Linked DNA regions of Homo sapiens: region 1 is linked to region 2. The links come from fine-mapping of genetic effects on gene expression. A gene starts in region 2. The other region holds a variant in brackets. All regions are shown on one strand. Distances are between the middles of the regions.

Region 1 (11,998 bases), 83 kb before region 2:
TGTCTTTCTAATTCTTTTAAGATGCATTGTTAGTTTGTTCATTTGAAGGTTTTTTAAAGGTAGACACTTAAAGCTATAAACTTCTGTCTTAGTACTGCTTTTGCTATATCCCATAGGTTTTGGTATATTGTATTTCCATTCTATTTGTCTCAAGAAATTTTTCAATTTTCTTCTTAATTTCTTCATTGACCCACTGGTCATTTAGGTGCAATTCAGGAGCATATTGTTTAATTTCCATGTATTTGTATAGTTTCCAATGTTCCTCTTCTTACTGATTTCTAGTTTTATTCCATTATGGTCAGAGAAGATGCTTGCCATTATTTCATTTTTTAAAAATGTTTTATGGCTTGTTTTGGAACCTAACATATGATGAGAATGATCCATGTGCTGAGAAGATCAATGTGTATTCTGCAACTCTTGGATGAAGTGTTCTGTTAATATTTACTAGATTCGTTGGTCTGTAGTGCATATTAAGTCTTATGTTTCTTTGTTGATTTTCTATCTGGGAGATCTGTCCAGTGCTGAAAGTGGGGTGTTAAAGTCTGCAGTTACTATTGTATTGAAGTCTATCTCTCTTTTTAACTCTAATAATATTTCCTTTATATATCTGAGTGCTCCAGTGTTCGGTGTATACATATTTAAAATTATTATAGCCTCTTGCAGACTTGATCTCTTTATCATTATGTAGTGATATAATAATATCACTTCTTCTTTGCCTCTTCTAGTTTTTGTCTTGAAATCTATCTTGTCTTATATAAGTACAGCAACTCCTGCTTTTTTTTGGTTTTCATTGGCATGGAATATCTTTTTTCATCTCTTCATTTTCAGTCTATGTGTGTCTCTGTAGGTGAAGTATGTTTCTTGCAGGCAACAGATCAATGAGTCTTGTATTTTCATCCACTCAGCCAGTCTATGTCTTTTGATCAGAGAGTTTAGTCCATTTACATTCAATGTTATTACTGATAAGTAAGGACTTATTCCTGCCATTTTGTTATTTTTTTTCTGGCTTTTTTTTGGTCTTCTCTTTATTCTTTATTTCCTTTCTGTCTTCCTCTAGTGAAGGTGACTTTCTCTGGTGATATGATTTAGTTTCTTTCTTGCTTTTTATATATTTTAGTTTCTATTTTGCTACACCTTTTCTTCTTTCTGATTTTTATTTTGTGTTTTTTTTGTCTACTATTTTAAGTTGGGTGTATTTGTTATTTCTTTTTTCTTTTTACGTATATTTAATACTATGAATTTTTCTCTGAAAAATGCCTTAGCTATATTTTATAATTTCTGATATTTTATGTTTCCCTATACTTGCTATTAAAAAATTCTGCATTTTTGTCTTAAATTTTTCTGTTGATGTAAGAGTTGCTAAATAGTATGTTGCTACATTTCCAGCTTGCAGTGCTTTTTTGGATTGGTTTTCAGCATCTAGTTTATTGCACTGTAGTAAGTGAATATTGCTTATGTTAATTCTATTTTTGGAAGTTATCAAGTATTTGTTTGAGGCATTGCAAAGGTTTCTCAAGTTCAGATATTTGAAAGAGCCACCAGACTTCATAGAACACACTTATTCTCTTTGGAACATATAAATTCATACAGCATACTTAATAAGGTCTTTATTTAAAGATAAAAGACTGCAGCAAATGAAACAGTGCAGACAAATACTGGGAGATCTGAGAGAAATCCCATGCACAAATTCTGCAGTCCTTTTTTTGCACAGAGACTGCACTCTGTCTTTGGACTGTGCAATCACAATCTGTGTGGGGAATCTTGGCTTCAGGAAACATCAAAGAGTTACAACATTTCAGTCAGACAAGACGAATAAATTCCAGAGATCTATTGTACAGCATAGTAACTATTGCTAATGACAATGTAGTTTATACTTACGAACTGCTAAAAGTAGACCTTAAATGTTCTAATGACAAAACATAACAAGTATATGAGGCAGATATGTTAATTTGATTTAACCATTTCACAATTTATATATATATCCAAATATCATATTGTACTATCTTCCTATCTTTCTTCATGATGTGATGATTTTTTGTAGTGATATGCCTTGATCCCTTTATCTTTGTCTCTGTGTGTGTGTGTGTGTGTATCTACTACAGACTTTTTCTTCCTGGTTACCACAAGGCTTACATAAAACATATTATCATTAGAACCGCCTATTTTAATCAGATGAAATCTGAACTAGCTGCATACAAAAACTCTACACTTTACCTTCTTCTTCCCTCACATTATATTTTATTGATGCACAATTTACATCTTTTATATATTGTTTACTAATTAACAAATTATTGTACTTACAGTTGTTTTTAATGTCATTGTCTTTTAACTTTTTACTAGAGTTAAAACTGATTTATGCACTACCAATACAGTATTAAAGTATTCTGAATTTGACTATATTCTTACTTTTATAGTGAGATTTATACTCTCATATGTTTTTATGATGTTAGAATCCTTCTCTTTCAATTTAAGGCATTCTCTTTAGCACTTTTTCTAGGGCAGGTCTACTGGTGATAAACTCCCACAGCTTCTGTTTCTGGGAAAGTCTTTATCTCCCCTTCATTTCTGAAGGACAGTTTTGCTGAGTATAGTATCTTTGGTTGACAAGTATTTTTTTCTTTCAGCATTTTAAATATATCATCCCACTCTCTCCTGGCCTGCAAGTTTTCCACTGAGACTATCACTAATAGTCTTACAAAGGATCCCTTCTATATGATGAGTTTATTTTCTCCAAATGCTTTCAAAATTTTCTGTCTTTTACTTGAGAATTTGATTACAATGTGGTCATAGAAGGTTTTTTGTATTTAAACCTTTGTTCTTTGGGATTTGTGGATCTGATGTTTACTTCTCCAGATTTGTGAAGCTTTCTATCATTATTTCTTTAAAAAAAAAAAAAAGGCTTTCCATCTTTTTCTCGTGCTCTGCTTTCTAGGACTCCCATAACATGTGAATTAATTTCCTTGCCAGTGTCCTATATGTTCTGTAGGCTTTCTGCATTCTTTTTAATTCCTTTTTCTTTTTGTTTTTCTGATTAGGTAATTTCAAATGACCTGTCTTCAAGATTACCAATTATTTATTCAGCTTGATTGAGTCTGCTATTGAAGCTCTCAATTCAACTTTTTATTTCAGTCATTGTATTCTTCAGTTCTAGAATTTGTGTTTGGTTCTTTTTAAAGGTTTTTATCTCAGTTGAAATTCTCATCTTGTTCATGTATTGGGTTTTCCTGATTTTGTTTAGTTCTGTGTTCTCTTGTAACTCAGTTTTTTAAAGATAATGATTTTAAATTATTTTTCAGACAGTTCATAGATCTCCATTACTTTAGGGTCATATACTGACACTTCTTTTTTTCCCTTTGCTGGTGTTATTATTATCTTTCATGATTCTTGTGGCCTTATGTTGGTGTTTGTACATTTGAAGAACTATGCACTTCTTCCAGTCTTTACAGACTGGCTTTGGCCAGTAAAGCCCTTTACCAGTTAACACATATAAGGATTCTCGGTATGCTGCCTGGCAGGGTCTATGAGCAGGCTTATTACATGAGTCCTCAGGAGAGCTGGCTGGTGCCTAGGTTAGCAAGTGGAAGATCTTGGTGCCGGGTTGGTGCCTGGGTTATCAAGTGGAAGATCTTAGTGCCTGAGTCCAAGAGGGCTGGCCTAACAATGAGGTGAGCCAGGTGCCTGGGTCCACAGGAATTGGCCTTGTCCTGAGTCTGCTGGCCTTATGCCAGGGTCCACTGGGGCATGCCCGGTGCCTGGGTCTACAAGCATGGGACTGGAGCCTAGGTTCATGGAGGCCATTCTAGCACTGGAGTGGGCAATAAGCCTAAGCCCATAGTGGTGGATCTAGGTTCTGATCTGAAGGTATCATGTTGAAATCTGGTCTGGAAGGGTGATCCTGGAGACTAGGTTCATGTGGACCAGTCCAGTGCTGAGGTCTCAAGTGGCCTTATACCCTGGATCCACTGAAGCAGGCCTGGAACTTGGTGCCACTGAAAGCTAGGGCTATAGGAGTCAGCCTGGCATTGGAGTGGACCTGGAGCCTGAGCCTGTGGGAGCTTGCATAGAGCCTGAGTCCACAGGGGCTAATATGGCATTGGGGCAAACCTGGAGCATGGGGTTGCAGGTGGTAGCCTGGAGTCTGGGTCTGCAGGGAGTAGCCTGAGTCCTGAGGCCACAAGGGAAAGTCTATAGTCTGGATGTTGGGGGACAGACTGATGGTTGGCTCTGTGGGTGCAAACCTGGAGCATAGGTCCATGGGGGCTGGCCCAGAGCCTGAAGCCATGGAGGAGAGCCTGATACTGGGGTTGACGGGGGTAGGGGGAGTGGCTCATACAAGGTCTGCGGTGACACTGGGTGTTTATTTCACTCTCTTTACCCCATGCAGAGGGTATCTTTCTCCATGTTGTACTGCCTGGGCTTGGGGGAGGGGTGATATGGGTAATGCGAGACTATTCTTCCTACTCTCTTCAATCCATCTTTTCTTATTTGTGTACTCCACTAAGGTTCTATAATCTCTCACCTGAATTCCTTAGCTCTTGTCAAGGTGTTTTCATGGATGGATAGTTGTTTAAATTGATGCTTTTGCAAGTGGTGATCATTTGAGTGTCCTATATGGTCATCTTGCTAGTCACTTTTCCATTAGGTTCTTTTTAATACATTCTATTTCTCTGTTAAAATTATTTATATTTTCATTTTGCCCATTTTTTTCTCTCATTTAATATATCTTAATAGTTATTTTAAAGTCATCATGTTATAATTTCAACATCTGGTCTGCTTCTATTACCTATTTTTTCCTGCTTCTTCATATGTCACATAAATTCTTATTATATTCCCAACATTGTAGAAAGCATTATCTTCCCCTAGAGAGAGCACACTCCTTTCTTTGTGAAGCAGATACATGGAGGAATTCGTCACCAAGATCACATCAGATTTGAGCAGGGTCAGGACTATTTTGAAGCTTTGGTTGGTTTAAGTTCAAAAAGTCTCTCTGTCTATGGCAAATCTGTTCTTCTATTAACTGTGAAAAGTCTTGGCAGATATCTTTAAAGTTCCTGTTCATCTCTGCTCACCTTAGAAGGGGGTCTTCCTTTCTGGAATTTGAGTTTCTTTTTATTCTGAATCCACACACCTCTCATATCATTTTAAAATATTTGACTATTTATACAAAAAATTAGCTGGGCGTGGTGGCGTGTGTCTGTAATCTCAGTTACTCAGGAGGCTGAGGCAGAAGAATCATTTGAACACAGGAGGCAAAGGTTGCAGTGAGCCGAGATTTTGCCACTGCACTCCAGCCTGGGTGACAGAGCGAGAGTCTGTCTCAAAAACATAATAATAATAAATATTTGACTATTATTTTATCCACCTTTCTGGTTATTTCAAAGGCACGCATTGTTTCCAACAACTCTCCACATTATAACCAAGAGCCAGAAGTCACAGTATTCATTTCTGAAACGTTTTCTACAAGTATTTTCAAACATATCTCTTACAGTGTTTTTTTTTTTGGTTTTCTAGCCATCTCCATTCTAAGCTTTTCTATATATTTTTCTCAAATTGTATTTAACACAGCCAAACTCTAAGCTAAATCATATACTTTAGATTGATTATAGTTTGATTGAAGAGTTACTGTTTCTAATACTACAAAGAATGTCTTTTTTCTGAACTACTTGCTAATGATACAAGTTAATAATACAATGCCTCATTATTTCTGAACTCTTTCCTATGTGTTCCCTAAAAACAGAGATATTTTTTCTTATAACCACAATACAATCATCACAATCACAAAATTAGTATTGACAAATTACTATCATGTAATCCACAGACCCCATCCAAGTTTTATCAATTTCCCAGTAATATTTTTCATAGCAAAATAATTCAATCTAGGATCATGATATTGCATTTATTTGCAATGTCTCTTTAGTCTCCTCTAATCTGGAATAGGTTCACAGTCTTATTTTCATGGCTTTAATACTTTTAAAATTATAAGCTGGTATTTTACATAATTCCCCTCAAACTGGGCCTGCACAACATGTCTGCATGATTACATACAGATAATAGGTCTTTGACAAAAATTTCGCCGAAGTGGTGCTGTGTTCTCAGTGCATTCTATCTAGGGGCACATAATTTTATCTCTTTACTAGTGATGTTAATTAATTACAATTAAAATTATTTATCTTCTGTAAAATTACTCATTTTCCCTTTGTAATTGCTAACTATTTTCTGGTGAGGTTCTCAGACTTTGTGAATGTCCCAGTATCTTTCCATTTTCACCAACAAGTTTTATCACTTACAAGTTTTATCATCTGTTAACACTAATAAGTTAGTGATAATCTTAGCATTTTTGCCTGAATTAATGAATTATTTCTTAGCATTTTTGTCAGATGGTGATTTTCCAATTTCAATACTCCTTCAGTGTTTATTAGATGGAATCTAATTTATTAGTTGGCAATCTACTGTAAGGAAAAGTTTTCTCCTCTCCTTATTTACCTATTTGATTACATAAGTATAATCATTCCTATTTTGTTCAATGAGTCATATTGATCATTATAACATTTATTTTGATGCTCAATTTTGGCCAGTGAGAGTCCCTTTAAGCTTGATTCAATATCCTTTCAGCATTTCCACCATTCTTTGAACACTTCCTTATTTCAGCCCTGGCCTAAATATTCCAGGCTCATTTTGTATTTTCCCTGCAAGGAGCCCTACCTACTTCTTCTTAATGGGAAAGGATATTTAGAAACGAAAATACAGGTGCTAGGTGTGCCCATTGCTATTG[C/T]GGTGTTACTGCTCTATGTCCACTCCATGTTCAAAGCTAGATAATACATGTACATACAGAAACATTATATTCTCGGCCAGGTGCGGTGGCTCATGCCTGTAATCCCAGCACTTTGGGAGGCTGAGGTGGGTGGATCACAAGGTCAGGAGACCGAGACCATCCTGGCTAACACAGTGAAACCACATCTCTACCAAAAATACAAAAAATTAGCCAGGCATGGTGGTGGGCGCCTGTAGTCCCAGCTACTCGGGAGGCTGAGGCAGGAGAATGGCATGAACCTGGGAGGTGGAGCTTGCAGTGAGCCAAGATCGCGCCACTGCACTCCAGCCTGGGCATCTCAAAAAAAAAAACAAAAAAAAAAAAACAAAAAAAGAAACATTATATTCTCTGATAATCTCAGTCTTTATACCAAGCTCAATTTTGTTTCTACTAACAGTTCCTTTCTTCCTAAGGATCAAGCTCTATTTTGTGAAAGGAATTTTAGTGACATATTTCCATATATCTGAGATATCCAAGGGCTTGGGGAACCCTGGTTCCCTGATTTTGTCTATGGCATGTTCCCTTTGCTATCCTAGTGTTACATGTTTTTGTAAAAGGGTTTACAGAGCTTCATAAACTATACTGCTGCCTCCAATATGTCCTAATTGAAAGTTCAGAGTACTATGTTGATAGCTCTAAGCAAAGCCTTTTAAAATCAACCCAAGAATTCTAAGGCAGTCAACTTCAGCCTTCATGACTCACAGCCTCTTTTCAGTTGCTGTTCACAGCAATTGGGAGTTGTTTCCCCTGACTGAGGGCCAGGAGGCAGGGTAACCTGGCATTAAAAACACAATATATAAGCAAATAGTACACTAAAAGCCCAGACTAATATATTTCATGTGACACAACTGCACTTGTATCCATAAATCCACACACACACACACACACACACAGATTTTTGCGATGGTGTCTCACTGTCACCCAGGCTGGAGTACAGTAGTACAATCACAACTCACTGCAGACTCAATCTCCTGGGCTCAAGCTATCCTTCCACCTCAGCCTCTCAAGTAGCTGGGACTACAGTGCATGCCATCATGCCCAGTTAATTTTTGTATTTTTTGTAGGGATGGGGCTTCATCATATTGTTCAGGTTGGTCTTTAACTCCTGAGCTCAAGCAATTCACCCGTCTTGGCCTCCCAAAGTGCTGGGATTACAGGCATGAGCCACCAGGCCCGGCCAAGAGAAAAAAAAATTAAGAAAAGTAAAAATAAAATTTTCAATTAATTATGGATCATTTAAATTATACACAGAGAAGGGCAGAGCAAGATGGTAGAAAAGAAGCCTACAGCATTTGTCCCTCTAGTAGGATCACCAAATTTTAACAACTACGTGCACACAGAAAAGCATCATCACAAGAACAAAAATCAGGTTGTTCGAACAATCACAGTACCTGGTTTTAACTTTATATCACTGAAAGAGGCATTAAAGAGGGTAGAAGAGACAGCCTTGAATTGCTGAAACTACCATTCTCCCATCCTCTGGCAGTAGCCATGTAGCACAGAGACCCTGTGCACTTGGGGGAGTGAGATCGCAGCAACTGGGTGACTTCGCATTGAACTCAGTGCTGTCCTGTCACAGAGGAGAGTAAAGCCATGCTGGGCTTAGCCAGCACTTGTGTACAGAGGGAACAATTTGGACCAGCCATAGCCAGAGGGTAATCAACCATCCCAGAAGCTAGAACTTGAGTTTCTCCGCAAGCCTTGTCACTGCAAGCCAAAGTGCTTTGGGGTCCTAGGCAAAACTGAAAGGCAGTCTAGGGACACAAGGACTGCACTTCCTAGGGAACTCTGGTGCTGGGCTGGGCTCAGAGCCAGTAAATACCATGAATCATTGCATTTTTAGAACCTACTGCCAGCATCTTCATTCTGTCCATTTAAACTAATTAATCAACCCTGCATGAAAGAATCTACTTTCTATTTCTCAAGATGTTAAAGTACAGTATTCATCCAAATATTATAAAATTTGGGAGAAATCTCATCATACATATATTGAAAATATTTTTAAATTTATTTGTAGATTTAAATATTTAATTCTACTTATATAAATACAACATTACACAAACTAATGAGCAGTCATAATCCTGGATATCAATAGGGATGAGACCAATCCTGGGATAATATTACATATGTGTGTATATAATTATAAGCTAAAAAAATACATATCATAGTGTCTGTAGAGTCTAATACATAGGATGGCTAAAATCATTTTTAGAACGTAAAGCAAAAGTCAACCAATAATAATTCTGGGATTAATTATTGTTATTTCATAACATTATTTTTGTTAAGAAAACTACAGTGATGATCTCAAACTCTTATCTCTCCTTAACATTTTTTGTTACAGGGCTGTGCCAATCGATTAAAAACAATCAGCTTTTATCAATGAGTACGTAGAATACGAGGTGATATTTGAATATTTTTGAGGACTGGGCATCCCTCACATGCTGTCTTAATTCATTTTCTATCGCTGCAACAGAACTGGGTAATTTATAGTGAACAGAAATGTATTCAGCTCATGGTTCTGGAGTTACCTTTGTTATTAATAATTTAATTGCACTCTGGTCTGAGAACACATGTCTATGTGATTTGAGGTCTTTGAAATTTATTGAGATTTTCTTTATGTCCCAAAATGTGGTCTGTTTTTGTGAGTATTCAATGTGCACTTAGAAAAAAATATGTTCTACAGTTGCTAGATTCATATTTTAAATAAGTCAGTTTGGTCAACTTTCTAAGATATGGTCTTCAAAGCATCTGTATCCTTACTTTTTTATTGCTTATTTTATCTATTACTGAGAGAGCATGTAAAAATCTTCAAAAGATAAATTGTCTATTTCTCCTTTTAGTTCTGCCAATTTTTGCTTTTTATATTTTGAGGCTATGTTATTAGGTGCATGGAAGTTTAGAACTGTTATATATTTTTGATAAATTGATCTTTTTATCATCATGAATTACCCATATATTCATCTCTGGTAATGCTTTCAGCCTTTAATGTCTACAGTTTTGCTATGAATGTAACTACAAGGTTTTATGATAGTGTTTATATACTGTATTTTTGCAGTCCACTTACATTCAACTTTGGTATCCTTATACTGTGTCTTATGTAAACAGTATATGCTGTTTTTAAAGTTTTAGTCTGTCTCATATTTAAATTGGAATATTTAGCTTATTACTGATATATTCAAGTTTAAATATAACATATTAGTACTTATTATCTATTTATCATACTTATTTGGTGTTTACTGTTCTCTTCCTTCTTGTCTTTTTTTGGATTAAGTATCTTTTTTTTTGTTATCCCAGTATCCCCCTTCTCTTTGCTTTGGAATTATCAAATATTTTACTATTTTTCCAATGGTTACTCTTGTTACTTTTCCAATGGTAACTCTCATATAAGTTAGTACTTTTACTGTATCTTGGATAATAAGAGGACCCCAAAATATCTTAACTCCATTTATTTTTCCAAGTAATATTATATTATTGTCATGTATTTTAATTTTATATACATTTCAAACCCCACAGAACATTATTTTTATGTATTAAAATTCATGCAGATTTTTCTCATATTTTTCTTTAAATTTTTATAGAAATAAACACTGAACCATGCATTCTTAATGAAATGAAATTTAGAGATTATTCATAAATATTTTACTAATTTTTAAAACTTTCTACACAAAGCAATCACCATGTAAGTTTCATCTCTCAGTTGTGCAGTTGTTTTCATTTTCGTATGTCCTAGAAAATGTGAATCTTCTTCATTTGTAGGGGCAAGGCACACAGGATTTTACCTATAACTGGATATCTGCTTCAAAAGTGGTAGTGTTATAATTTCTTTTATCACATCTCTTAAAGCTGTAATTATAACTCCCTTACATCATTTGATTTTTTAATAAAAGGAATATTAAACAGTAAACGTTTCACATGAAGTTTACAGGTATCAAGTATTCTGTTTGCTGTAATAACCTGAACCTTATATTTCTGAGAAAAATACACATAGATCTTGAAGTTATATGCTTGAGATAAATAGTTAAAATTACAATTAGTTATTTCTATTTTTATCAATAAATAGAAAAATTATGATAGTAATATTAAGAAGACTTAATATCTATAAAGGGAAATTTGACCAGGAGTCTCCTCTTATGATGGATTCATAGATGTTTTATGTTTTGGGTTCTTTTTGCTCCTTTGTATATTTCATGTTTTGAAAATAAGGATAGGTTTTTCTTTTCATGCTTCAAAATCTAATAAAAGAATATAAAAAGGCATGGCACTAAACTACATCTAAACAAAGATGGCTTGGTTACTTGCAGTGTCAGAATTAAGTTTTTTTCCGAGGAGAATGTTTAGTGTTATTTCCAGACACAACATTGCTGGGAAATTTTTTATTTATTTGTGGATACATAGCAGATGTATATATTTATGGATACATGAGATGTTTTGATACAGACATGCAATGAGTAATAACCACATCATGAAAACGGAGTATGTATCCCCTCAAGCATTAATCTTTTGTGTTACAAGCAATCCAATTATACTTTTAGTTATTTTTAAATATAAATTTAAATAATTATTGACTATAGTCACTCTGTTGTGCTATCAAACACTACGTCTTATTCATTCTTTCTAACTAGTTTTTATACCCATTAACCATTCCAACCTCCTCCCCAACAACCTATCTTTCCAAGCCTCTGGTAACCATCCTTCTACTCTCTATCTCCATGAGTTCAATTGTTTTGATTTTTAGATCCCACAAATAAGTGAGAACATGTAATGTTTGTCTTTCTGTGCCTGGCTTGTTTCGCTTAACATAATGATCTCCAGTTCTATCCATGTTGTTGCAAATGACAGGATCTCATTTTTTTTATGGATAAATATTACTCCATTGTGTATAAGTATCATATTTTCTTTATTCATTCATCTGTGGATGGACATTTAGGTTGCTTCCAGTGCTTGGCTATTATGAATAGTGCTGCAACAAACATGGGACTGCAGATATCTCTTTAATATACTGATTTCCTTTCTTTTTGGTATACACCCAGCAGTGGGATTCCTGGATCATATGGTAACCGTATTTTTAGTTTTTGAGGAAACTCCAAACTGTTCTTTATAGTGGTTGTAGTAATTTACATTCCCACCAACAGCATATGAGAGTTCCCTTTTCTCCACATCCTTGCCAGCATTTGTTATTGCCTGTCT
Region 2 (11,998 bases):
CTACTTATCCTTCAATTCTTGGTTCAGTGACACTATGCCAAATCTCCCTATTATTAAATGTTCTCATTGAACCATTTGCCTTTCCTTAGCATTGAACACAACTGTAATTTTATAATACAGTTGCCTCTTGAACAACACAAGTTTGAACTTCACAGGTTCACTTATACGTGAATTTTTTTCAACAAAAGGCAATGGAAAATGCAGTATTTGAGAGATATGAAACCTGGGTATACAGAGGGCCAACCTTTTCATATAAGTGGGTTCTGTAGGTCTAACTTTAGGACTTAAGTATGCATGGATTTTTGGTATATGCAGGGGCCCTGAAACCAATACCCAGATTATACTGAGGGACAACTGTAATTTGTGATTGTTTCATCAATGTCAATTTCTCCTATCAGACCAAAAGCTCCATAAGGGCAGAAATTGTGTCTTTTTATTCACTATCAAATCACGAAGACATAGCACAGCACTTACAACAGGTGTTCATTAAATATTTGCAGAATTGATTATCAAATACTTTTTTAAATTTTTTATTTATTATTTTATTTATTTATTTTTTTTTGGAGACAGAGTCTTGCTCTGTCGCCCAGGCTGGACCGCAGTGGCGCCATCTCCTCGGCTCACTGCAAGCTCCACCTCCCAGGTTCACGCCATTCTACTGCCTCAGCCTCCCGAGTAGGTGGGACTACAGGTGCTGGCCACCATGCCTGGCTAATTTTTTGTAGTTTTAGTAGAGACGGGGTTTCACCGTGTTAGCCAGGATGGTCTCGATCTCCTGACCTCATGATCCGCCCACCTCAGCCTTCCAAAGTGCTGGGATTACAGGCGTGAGCCAATGCGCCCCGCCTTTTTATCAAATACTTTTAAGAAGTAAAAAAGAATGAGGGCTGAGCAAGACGATTGGAGCTGACTACCAAGATCACTGGTGACCTTTGAAAGTACAGTTTGAATATACTGATGAGGGTAGAATCCAGAATGCAGGGACTTAAGGAGCAACTGAGCAAACAAAATAGGGAAGAGAGAATGGACAAAAAGGCTGACAGAAGGGAGCAGCAGTCTCAAGGGAAAGCTGGTTATTTTCATTTTGTTATTCTTTATGCCATTATTGTTCTGCCTCCAATACTGAGAAGACTTAAACAGAGAAGAATTGAAAATATTAGCGACAGGATGTAATTAGTCAGACAAGGGAGGACTATAGTTGAAAAGTTTGTCTGAAAATGTCAACAAAGAGGTGAGGTAAGCAAAGATATCATAAAGGAGTGGTTAACTTGGCCGGGCGTGGTGGCTCACGCCTGTAATCCTCACATTTTGGGAGGGAGGCCAAGGCGGGCAGATCACCTGAGGTTAGGAGTTCAAGATCAGCCTGGCCAACATGGCGAAACCCTGTCTCTATTAAAAATACCAAAATTAGCTGGGCATGGTGGCACGCGCCTGTAATACCAGCTACTCAGGAGGCTGAGGCAGGAGAGTCACTTGAACCCGGGAGGCGGAGGCTGCAGTGAGTCGAGATCGTGCCACTGCACTCCAGCCTGGGCGACAAGAGCGAGACTCTGTCTCAAAAAAAAAAGAGTGGTTAACAAGCATGATGATACAACCAGTTGAAAGCAATATTTGAGTTCATAAAGAAGTTGATGAGTTGATAAACCAACAACACCTAATTGGGGAAAGCATAAGGAAGAGAGCTGTGTTGCAATCAAAAGGTAAGGAAGCCATATTCAACTACACTGCTTAGATGTAATCAGCAAAATCCAGATTGTGGGAGATTGTACAGGGCCAATAACCTGGTTCCTTCAACAAATAAATTGCAAGGAAAAAAATGAGGGAGAAATTTAAAGAATAAAAGAAACTTAAAGAACATATGGATTTGACATATCATGTGGATTTGACTGGATCCTGACCCAGTTAAGCAAACTTTAAAAAAAGAAAGACAAGTAGAAAATTGAACTCTGGATATCTGATGATAGTAAGAAAATATATTAACTACTTTAGGTGTGATAATAGTATTATGTTGGCCGGGCGCGGTGGCGGGTGCCTGTAGTCCCAGCACTTTGGGAGGCCGAGGTGGGCGGGTCACAAGGTCAGGAGATCGAGACCATCCTGGCTAACATGGTGAAACCCTGTCTCTACTAAAAATACAAAAAATTAGCCGGGTGCGGTGGCGGGTGCCTGTAGTCCCAGCTACTCCGGAGGCTGAGGCAGGAGAATAGCATGAACCCGGGAGGTGGAGCTTGCAGTGAGCTGAGATAGCGCCACTGCAGTCCGGCCTGGGTGAAAGAGTGAGACTCCGTCTCAAAAACAAACAAACAAACAAAAATAGTATTATGTTATGCTTTTAAAAGGTCCTTTAATTTTTCAGAGATCATACTGAAATATTTAGATTTCAGATACTCAGTATTTGCTTCAAAATAATACAAGACAAGGTATGTGGTGATATAGAAGCAACAAGACTGGTCATAAGTTAATCATTGCTGAATCTGGTATTGAGTTCACTGGGCTTCATTATGTATGGTTTTTTAACATTTGTTTGAAATTTTCCATAACAAATTTTTAAGATGAGATTTGGTTTGCAGAGTAGGATTTTTCTCTATATACTGTATTTTAAGTGGTCATGGTTAAAGTTTCTTGTTTAAGGTTTGACCGGGGTTCAGTAGATTTCTGGGAACCACAAGCATTATTAAATCAGATCTAAGAAAAATTGGAGGACTAAGCAATCCACAAAAAAACCAGGGTTGGGTAGAACACAAGATACCACTTGCAATATGAAATATTCAGGAGTAGATCCTTCAAGCTGCTATGTATTAAACGTTTTCAAAGATCAAAATTTAATAAAAAGGATAACAGAAACTAATTGGGGCTGCACACAGTGGCTCACGCTGGAAATCCCAGCACTTTGGGAGGTGGAGGCTGGCGGATCGCTTGAGGTCAGAGTTCAAGACTAGCCTGGCCAATATGATGAAACCCTGTCTCTACTAAAAATACAAAAATTAGCTGGGTGTGGTGGCACACGCCTGTAGTCCCAGCTACTCAGGAGACTGAGGCATGAAAATCATTTGAACCTGGGAGGTGGAGGTTGCAGTGAGCCAAGATCGTGCCACTGCACCCCAGCCTGGGCTACAGAGAGAGACTCTGTCTCAAAAAAAATTAAAAAAAAAAGAAAAAGAAACGAACTGGGGGATCCATAAGGAGAATGCTGATGTTCAAAGCTGGAAGAAAAATGATTCCATCTACTCTTTGGTTTCTAAGACAGATTGGAGATTCAAAGCCAAAGAAAAAGTCATGCTGGCATAAGATAAAACCTGAGCATATTAAATTTGCTCCTATGGAAAGAAAAGAATATATGCACTAAAACAAAGGTCCCCAACCCCCAGGCCACGGACAGGCACCTAGGAACCAGGCCGCAAGGCAGGGGGTAAGCCGTAGGAGCTTCATCTGTTTCTACAGCCACTCCCCATCTGGCATTACTGCCTGAGCTCTGCCTTCCGTCGCATGAACAGGGGTGTTAGAGTCTCACAAGAGCGTGAACCCTATTGTGAACTGCGCAAGCCAGGGATCTAGGTTGCATGCTCCTTATGAGAATCTAATGCCTGATGATCTGTCACTGTCTCCCATCACCCCCAGATGGGACCATCTAGTTGCAGAAAAACAAGCTCAGGGCTCCCACTGATTCTACATTACAGTGAGTTGCATAATTATTTCATTATATGTTACAATATAATAATAGAAATAAAGTGCACAATAAATGTAATGCGCTTGAATCATCCCAAAACCATACCCCCTCTCTGAGCCATGGAAAAATTGTCTTCCATGAAACCTGTCTCTAGTGCCAAAAAGGTTGGGACCGCTGCACTAAAGGAGTGTTATGATATTGCAGATGTAGGGGCAGTCACTCAAATCTCCACAACCTACTTCTGTCATCTTCCCTCCTTTGTTCTTTCCATTTTCTTCCTCCCACAAATTCAAAGTGCCTTAGAGGTAGCACAAAGGCCCTGAGGCAAAGAGGGAGAGTAAGAGATAATACGAAGTGTTTGGAGGAAAAGGATTAAACATTTCTCCCCTCCCACTGAATCCTGGATTTAAGAAATGGTGTAAGATGAACTTGACAACTAGCACCTATTTGTTTAAGGTGGAAAATGCAATGCTCAGGACTCAAGACCAGTTGAGATAGGTTTGCTTGGTATTGACTAGGATATTGAACCCTGAGGGCCTCTCCTCTTGCTTTTACAGATCTCATCCTCAGCAATCCCCAAGCACTAGATTTTTTTTTTTTTTTTTTTTTTTTTTTTTACAGGTACAGATGCAAAAAGAGTTAAAACATCGGGTTTAAAAAAAAAATTAGTGGCTGGGCACAGAGGCTCACAACTGTAATCCCAGAGCTTTGGGAGGCCGAGGGGGTAGAATCACCTGACTAACATGGTGAAACCCCATCTCTACTAAAAATACAAAATTAGCCGGGCATGGTGGTGCTCGCCCGTAATCCCAGCTGCTCGGGAGGCTGAGGCAGGAGAATCGCTTGAACCTGGGAGGCAGAGGTTACAGAGAGCTGAGATCGCGCCACTACTCTCCAGCCTGGGCAACTGGGCAACAAGAGGGAAACTCCGTCTCAAAAAAAAAAAAAAAAAAAAGTTGAGAGTAACACCATGTGAAGGAGACAGGCACATTCCAAAAGAAAACAAGTGCATGTCGGAGCAAGGCAGTCGGTGGCTGGAGCACAGTTAGAGTAACGTGGGAGGAGCTGTGGAGACGCAGCCACGGGTCACGCCAGGGCCCTGCACACCATGCAGAGGAAAGGAAGAGCTCAGTGCGCCAGGGTTTCATACAGCCGCTCTCTCAGGCCCCAAGGAAACGTCTAGAGCGCACAGGCGGACTCACCCCAGACTGTTCGAACCGTCCCTGAGCGCCCGCCCTCGTCTCCCGGCACCACTGGCCCCGCAGCAGCCAGTTGAGAAGGGCGGAGGCTGATTCCAATGAAGTGGCAGACCGTTAGGCGGCCTCTCCAAAAAGCCAGCTATGTCGCCGTTAGCCAAGGTTTGAGGGTCTTCTCCTTCTCTTCGAGGGCCCAACCTCCCCTCCAGATTTAGTACACCAGAGGCGTCGCAGCAACGGCTGCTGCCTGCGCGCCTCAGCTAGGCGGGCTCGGATATTTTTAAGGCCACATTGGAAATCCCGGGCATGCTCCCGCCGGCGGAGAAGGCCCAGACAAAATGTGCGCCAATCAGGATACAGACTTGGAGGACGTTTACCCTCAGGACCAATAAGAGGGAGGGCGGACCGGGCCAAGGGTGCCGGTTCGCTCTCCGGATTTAAACCTCAGCGGTCGGCGGTTAACCGCAGGCTCGGCGCGTGGGCCGGCAGTGCGCCTGCGCAAGTTACGCGAAAGCTAACAGAATCTGCGGTGCTCTGCTGGCGACTGGCAGGACGCGGTGCAGAGAGCGGACTTCCGCGACGCGGGTAAGCCGGGCGAAGGCCGGAAGCGGAGGGACGCGGGGACCTGGTGGCTGCCGGCCCACTGCGGCGGGAGCCCTCGCTCCTTTTCCCACCGTCGGGACGGTGCAGAGTGGCAGCTTCCCTCCGTGGATTCCAGGTCCTGCCTGGCGAGCCGTCCCCAACGTCTGCGTTCCTGAGGGAGGCGGCCGGGGCAGCGTGAGCTACAGGCGATGTGCGCGGCGGGCCGCAGCCCCTGGAGGTCACGGTGTGCGCTGGCCGCCGCCGCGGTCTTTGCCCCGGTGGCCTTTCTGAGCTCCTGGGCCGCGCCCCTGGGACCAGGCGGAGGCCGGGGACGGCCCCAGGGCTGGAGGGGAGTCCCGAAGGCCGCTAGCGACCTGGGTCCAAGCCACGCCCACGGCCAGGCGGGGCGACTGCGAGCTTTGCCGTTGAAAGGCGGAGCGTGTCTTGTCGCCTTCTAGCTGCACCTTTTGTGGACTGCAGCATGGAACCGTCCAAGGTGTTTGTCCACCCCGAAATGGAAATAAATCTTTTTTATTCTAAACAGTATACAATCTCACTAAGCAGGCAAAGAAAAACATTAAGATATCTTTTTAGATTGGTAAGATTTTTCAGTACCCCATGCTGCTGAGAGAGTGAAGAAATGAAAGCAAGCACCTTTATGGCCTGTGTGCTGGGGATAATCTGTTTTTCTAGAGGGCAGTTTGGCATTATAAATCAGAATTCAGGCCGGGCGCGGTGGCTCACGCCTGTTACCCCAGCACTTTGGGAGGCCGAGGTGGGCGGATCACGTGAGGTCAGGAGTTCGAGACCAGCCCGACCAATACGGTGAAACCCCGTCTCTACTAAAAATACAAAAATTGGCCGGGCTTGGTGGCGGGCGCCTGTAGTCCCAGCTCCTCGGGAGGCCGAGACAGGAGAATCTCTTGAACCCGGGAGGGAGAGGTTGCAGTGAGCCGAGATCGCGCCACTGCACTCCAGCCTGGGCGACCGAGCAAGACTCTTGTCTCAAAAAAAAAAAAAAAAAAGAGAAAAGAAAAACATAAATCAGAATTCAAGTAGTACCATAACTTCTAAGTCATAATCCAATTCCAGGAGTTTATTCCAAGGACATAAATCGGACAAGAATGCAAACATAGTATGTACATGTTTTTAGCAATCCGAGCAACATTTAGTACGTGTAAAGAAGAAAGAAAATACTCGAAATTTCATCAGTCACAGATAACCATCAAACACTGTTCACATTTAGGTTTACTTCAGATATATTCATAATATATACCTTATATTTATGTGATTTCCTTATAAAATGTGTTTTAAATAATTGCATGTTACAAATATAATAAAGTATGTTAATTTAAAAGAACGTCAGTTAAGCAGATTATACATTATTGAGTCAGTAATAAATTGGGAACACATTTCTCTGTCAGTGTCGATACGCATTACCATTTTTAATGGATGCGTGGCGTTTGTTGCTATGGCTGTATTGTATCATATATTATTTAACCAGTCCCCTACTAATGTACATTTGTTTCCAGTCTCTTCATAATCATAAAATGGTATGGTAGTGGTCACTTGTATGTATACATGTTTGCATTCTTGTCCAATTTATGTCCTTGGAATAAATTCCTGGAAGTGGATTATGACTTAGAAGTTGTGGTACAGTTTAAATTCTGATTCAAAATGCCAAACTGGGCCGGGCGCGGTGGCTCACACCTGTAATCCCAAGCACTTTGGGAGGCGGAGGCGGGCGGATCACTTGAGATTGGGAGTTTGAAACCAGCCTGGCCAACATGGTGAAACCAAGTCTCTACTAAAAATAGAAGAAAAATTAGCCGGGCGTGGTGGCAGGTGCCTGTGATCCCAGCTACTCGGGAGGCTGAGGCAGGAGAATCGCTTGAACCTGAGAGGCAGAGGTTGCGGTGAGCCGAGATCAGGCCACCGCAACTCCAGCCTGGGCGACAGAGAGAGACTCGTCTCAAAAAACAACAACAATAATAATAATGCCAAACTGCCCTCTGGAAAAACGGATTATCCCCAACACACAGGGCATAATAAGGATGCTTGTTTTTATTTCTTCACACACTTGCCAGCACCGGGTACTGAAAAAATCTTATCAATCTGAAATGATGTCTTAATGCTTTTATACACATTACTGAAATTGAACATGTTTTCTGTTTATTAATTTTTGTTGCTGTTTAGAAACAGACGTTGGCTTTGTGCCCAGGCTGGAGTGCAGTGGCCAGATCATAGCTCAGTGCAGCCTCAAACTCCAGGGTTCAAGCGGTCCTCTTGCTTCAGCCCCCATAGTACTGAGACTACAGGTTTATGCCACCACGCCTAGCTAATCTTTTTTCTTTTTTTTTGAGAGATGGGGGTCTTGCTGTGTTGCACAGGCTGGTCTTGAACTCCTTCACAGCCTCAAGCGATCCTCCCACCTCAGCCTCCAAAGTGCTGGAATTACAGGCATGAGCCACTGCGCCCAGCTGTTTGTTAGTTATTATTCGTTTGGTACGGCATCTGTCTTTTCTCCCCTATCTTACTGATAATGTGTACCCTTTAATAGCTTTCTAAGAGGAATTCAAATTACTGATTTTTAAACGTGTTACAAGTATTTCTCCCAGTTTGTTGTCTCTTTTGCCTTCATTATGGTATTGTTTGCCTTTGTGGTAGGATGTTTTGTTTTGTTTTAATACTGTGATTCTTTAAGCTGCTTGCTTACCTCCCCAGAGGTGGAGAAATTTGTTATAACTCTGCAATAGCCTCCCTATAGCAGTCTACTGACCCAGTCCCTTTATCTCATTTTGAAGTCTTTGCCCCTTCTACCCTTGAAATCCTTTTGATTGTAACTAGCTAACCCTAGGATGCTGAGTCACTAAGACTTTTGAAGAGAAGATATGGTTAGGTATTTCGGTCAATGTTGTCTGTGTTTACAGAATACAAGTTGCTCTAGCTTTTATGTGAAAGTTTCCCTCTAAAGAGAAAGGATTGTTCGATCTTTTATATTAGAAAGAGAAGGAACTGACAGTTACCTATGGACCTTATTAAAGTTTCTATTTTATTTATTGTTTGCAAACATCATCTTCATATGTTCAAGGAAAAAAATAGGAGTGTGACACAGTTGAAATGCAGAGGAAATAACACATTAATCACTGTATAGTAGGACACATGCCATTAAAAAAAAAAACTAACTCTTGGCTTTACTGCCAAAAATCCTCCTAGCCCAGAGTCTCACAAATCGTTATTTATGTATAAATATATAAAAAGTGTCATTTAAATTTCACAACCTAAATAGTTCCTTTATTCCAACATTTATTTAGTCCTTACCATGGGCCAGAGACTTCGGATTTGTACAAATGCTGTCTAAGAGAGCAAGTACTTTTGCAAAGTTGCATTTGGGGGCTTCCCATTTGTTCCACCTGTGATGACTGTCTTGACTTTTTCTATGGCAACTACCAAAAATGTAGTCACTAAATTCTTACTCTTCTAGATTGGATAATATAATCTAGCCAGACTTGAAGGGATTTTACTTAAGATCTAAGACCCTGATCTTCTGATTCCTTTGCTTCTACACAGTATCCTAACAATGACTTATGGTTAGTGCATTTTGTTCCATGTATCACTGCTTCAGAGTTAATTTTTTTAAACTCTATTCTTCTTTTCTAGGTTTTTTTTTTACTTGAATGTAAATACCAATCAAGATACATTGAAATAAGGTAAGAAATTGAAAAAAAAAAAAAAAAACCTTGGTTTGCACTTACATATTTAAGTTATTCCACCATGATCATTGATTACATGAAAAAGAGGATCTTTAAATCAAAAGTAAAGGCCAAAGTAATTATATTTTAAGAATACTCAGGACATAATGAAGTGTTGATAGACTGGGTCCCAAAAAGCAGTGATAATGATTCAAATCCAGAAGACTTGGATCATACAATGGGCAATTTTGAATAAATCTTAAGTAATTTGTACCACTAATTCCCCATCTCTAAAATGGGGTATTTTCTGGTTCCCTGTCTGCTAGGATATAACAGCTATTATAATGTACTTTTTAGTACTACAGGGTCACCTCACCTTTTGTATGCTATTTTACTTCCTAAATCTGGAACTGTTTCAGTGAAGTCTATTTCTGTGGTCCACCCCCCTTCTGTAGCAATTATGCAGCATTAGTTTATGATTTATATATTAGTATTGTTTTTAATTGTCCCATGTGTTATTTGCACTAGCAGCTTGAGGATAGAAAACATATTTGTATACCTGAAGTCTTGAACATGGGTAGGAAAAAACTAATTATTGGTTGGTAAGTAAAACTTTGGATCTCATAAACATGGTAGAATTGTAAATTAGAGGATCAGGGTCTTAGATCTTAAGTAAAATCTTTCAAGGTTGACTAGATTATACTATCCAATCTAGAAGAGTAAGAATTTAGTGACTACATAAGTCAAGACAGTCATCATAGGTAAAATAAACAAGAAGCCTTCAAATGTAAGTTTGCAAAATTACTCATTCTCTGAGGTGGCATTTGTAAAAATTCCAAATGTGGTGAACACTCACTTTAGTAATGAAAATTATTATTGAGGAAGAAGGTCTGAGTTCAAACTTTGATGTTTATTATTTTTATGGTTGCAAAGGATAATGTATTTAAGACAACTCTGAGTTCTTTTGAATAAATACTGGTGTTCACAAGTAATATTTTGAGGATCACTTATTAACTTTGAGAACAAGCAAAGCTCTATCTCATTTTTCCTCTCTCAGTATGTGGTACTACCAGCCACTCATTTTGCTCACATCTGAAACTTAGGAGTTATCTAGAAAGCCTCCCTAGTTTTGAACAGCATATTTATTCACTGAGTCCTGTTGTTTCTACTTTCTTAATCTTAAATTCATCTACTTCTGTCCATTTGCCTCACTAAAAATCTCTTCTAGGCCATTTTCATCATCTATTGCCTCCATTACTCCAGCAGCCCCCTAATTGGTCACAGTGCCTCCAATCTTGCCCTCTTCCCATCCACAGAATACTCAGAGCAATATTTTTGCCACACAATTCTATCGGGCATGTAAATTTTTTCAGTGGCCCTGCAAAATCTAAGCTTTTTAAGGAATGTCTTTGCTCTACAAATGTGACCTGTGCTTACCTTTTTAAACTATGTTCTTGTCACTCTCAAGCCGTATTAAAGAATTGAGCTGCCTGAATGCATATGTTGTCATCTCTAACCCTTTATACAAACTGGATCTTCTGACTTAGACACATTTAAAGTGGTTCTTTATCCTCATTTTAACTGGCTCCCACTTGTTCTGCAAGATCTAGCTTCAATATCTCCTCTATAAGAACTTGCCTATAGTCACTAGCCCAAGGCTTGGCAAACACCATGGCCCATGAACTAAGAGTGCTTTTTAGATTTGTAAAGGATTGTAAAAACATGTATGCAATAGAGGCCATTTGTTGTTGACACAGCCTAAAACATTTACTCATTAATCCTTCACAGAAAACATTTACCAACCTCTGCACTAGATTTATATGCTTTGTAAGATAAGGTACTGTGCTTTATTCCAGGTAGGTAACTTTGTGCCTGGCATTAAACCAATTTATCCAATCTTTAATTAAATGAATTTAATATTCTTAAATTCTGTCTTAGAAAATAAGACACTCAGATGCAGCACTTTATGAAAATTCAGATGAGTAGTGAATATCTTATCTGCTTTGGAGAGAAAAACACAACAAATCAGATACTTGCAGGATTAGGCTTTAATGAATTTGAATACAAGGCACAGGTTTCCAGGTGTATGTAAATACATCTCCATTTTACGTTCTTTAATCGCTTAATCCTTTTGGACCGGGATAAGAGAATATTTGAAATTTCTTATTAAAGCAATAACTTCCTTAATAGGGCTTTAGTCTTTTTGCTTTTTTTTTTCTTTTAAGAGCTGATCATCTGAATTCCTAGTACTTGCAAGTAAATTTTTTTTTTTTTCCTTTTCTGTCCACCTACCATTAGGTGGTTCCTAGATCCTGGCAAATTGTCTATGGTTAAATGATGCTTTTAATTTCTGTGTCAACACAGACCCTCTTCGTTGGTGTCTCCAAATTAGTATTCTCTTCCTCTAGTGTGTCATTACAGTCCCTTTTGGCTTTTGTTTCTTCCTCATGGAATAAATGTGGGTGCTCAATTCGTCCCCTACGTACAAAATGCTGGATCCGGGATTCCAGTCCTTGGCATTTAGGACGGTCCATGAGGGGCTTATATGTGCGCATCTTCACTCCTTCTACAAAGGCACTGGTCTGCTTTATGACAGAGGGCTTAACATTTCCCCATTCTGTCATTCCATCCATCTTTGGTCCTATTCCACAGGGTACTGGAACAGTGTCCAGTCCTTGTAGCATACTATACAACATGTGAGTTTTGACAGCATGATTAGCCCACAGTTGTTGTAGGTGGGTAATATTGAACTCCTGAGCCTCCTGGTCATAGATCCACTTGACATTTTCAAACTTACAGTCATATAAGACTAGAGGAAATTCTACAGCCATACTAGAGAAAAAGAGAAAAGAAAGTTTGAG

What was found.
Region 1: its variant is fine-mapped to the expression of HYLS1 in whole blood (TOPMed, PIP above 0.99).

The regions. Positions count from the first base shown.
Region 1 is chr11:125,799,494-125,811,491 of GRCh38, forward strand. No RefSeq gene overlaps it. Among named protein-coding and RNA genes, the nearest start is that of PATE3, 17 kb to the left of the region's middle. RefSeq lists an enhancer at 3,289-3,790. The variant C/T (reference allele first, on the strand shown) is at 6,773.
Region 2 is chr11:125,882,318-125,894,315 of GRCh38, forward strand. HYLS1 (HYLS1 centriolar and ciliogenesis associated) reads left to right here and starts at 5,351. Exons shown (of 3, transcript NM_001134793.2): 1 at 5,351-5,448; 2 at 9,106-9,155. It overlaps PUS3 (pseudouridine synthase 3), which reads right to left. Exons shown (of 4, transcript NM_031307.4): 4 at 11,168-11,969. The coding sequence ends at 11,468. LINC03136 (long intergenic non-protein coding RNA 3136) reads right to left here and starts at 538. Exons shown (of 2, transcript XR_007062935.1): 1 at 1-538. RefSeq lists an enhancer at 5,059-5,108 and silencers at 5,249-5,298, 5,389-5,438, 5,539-5,928.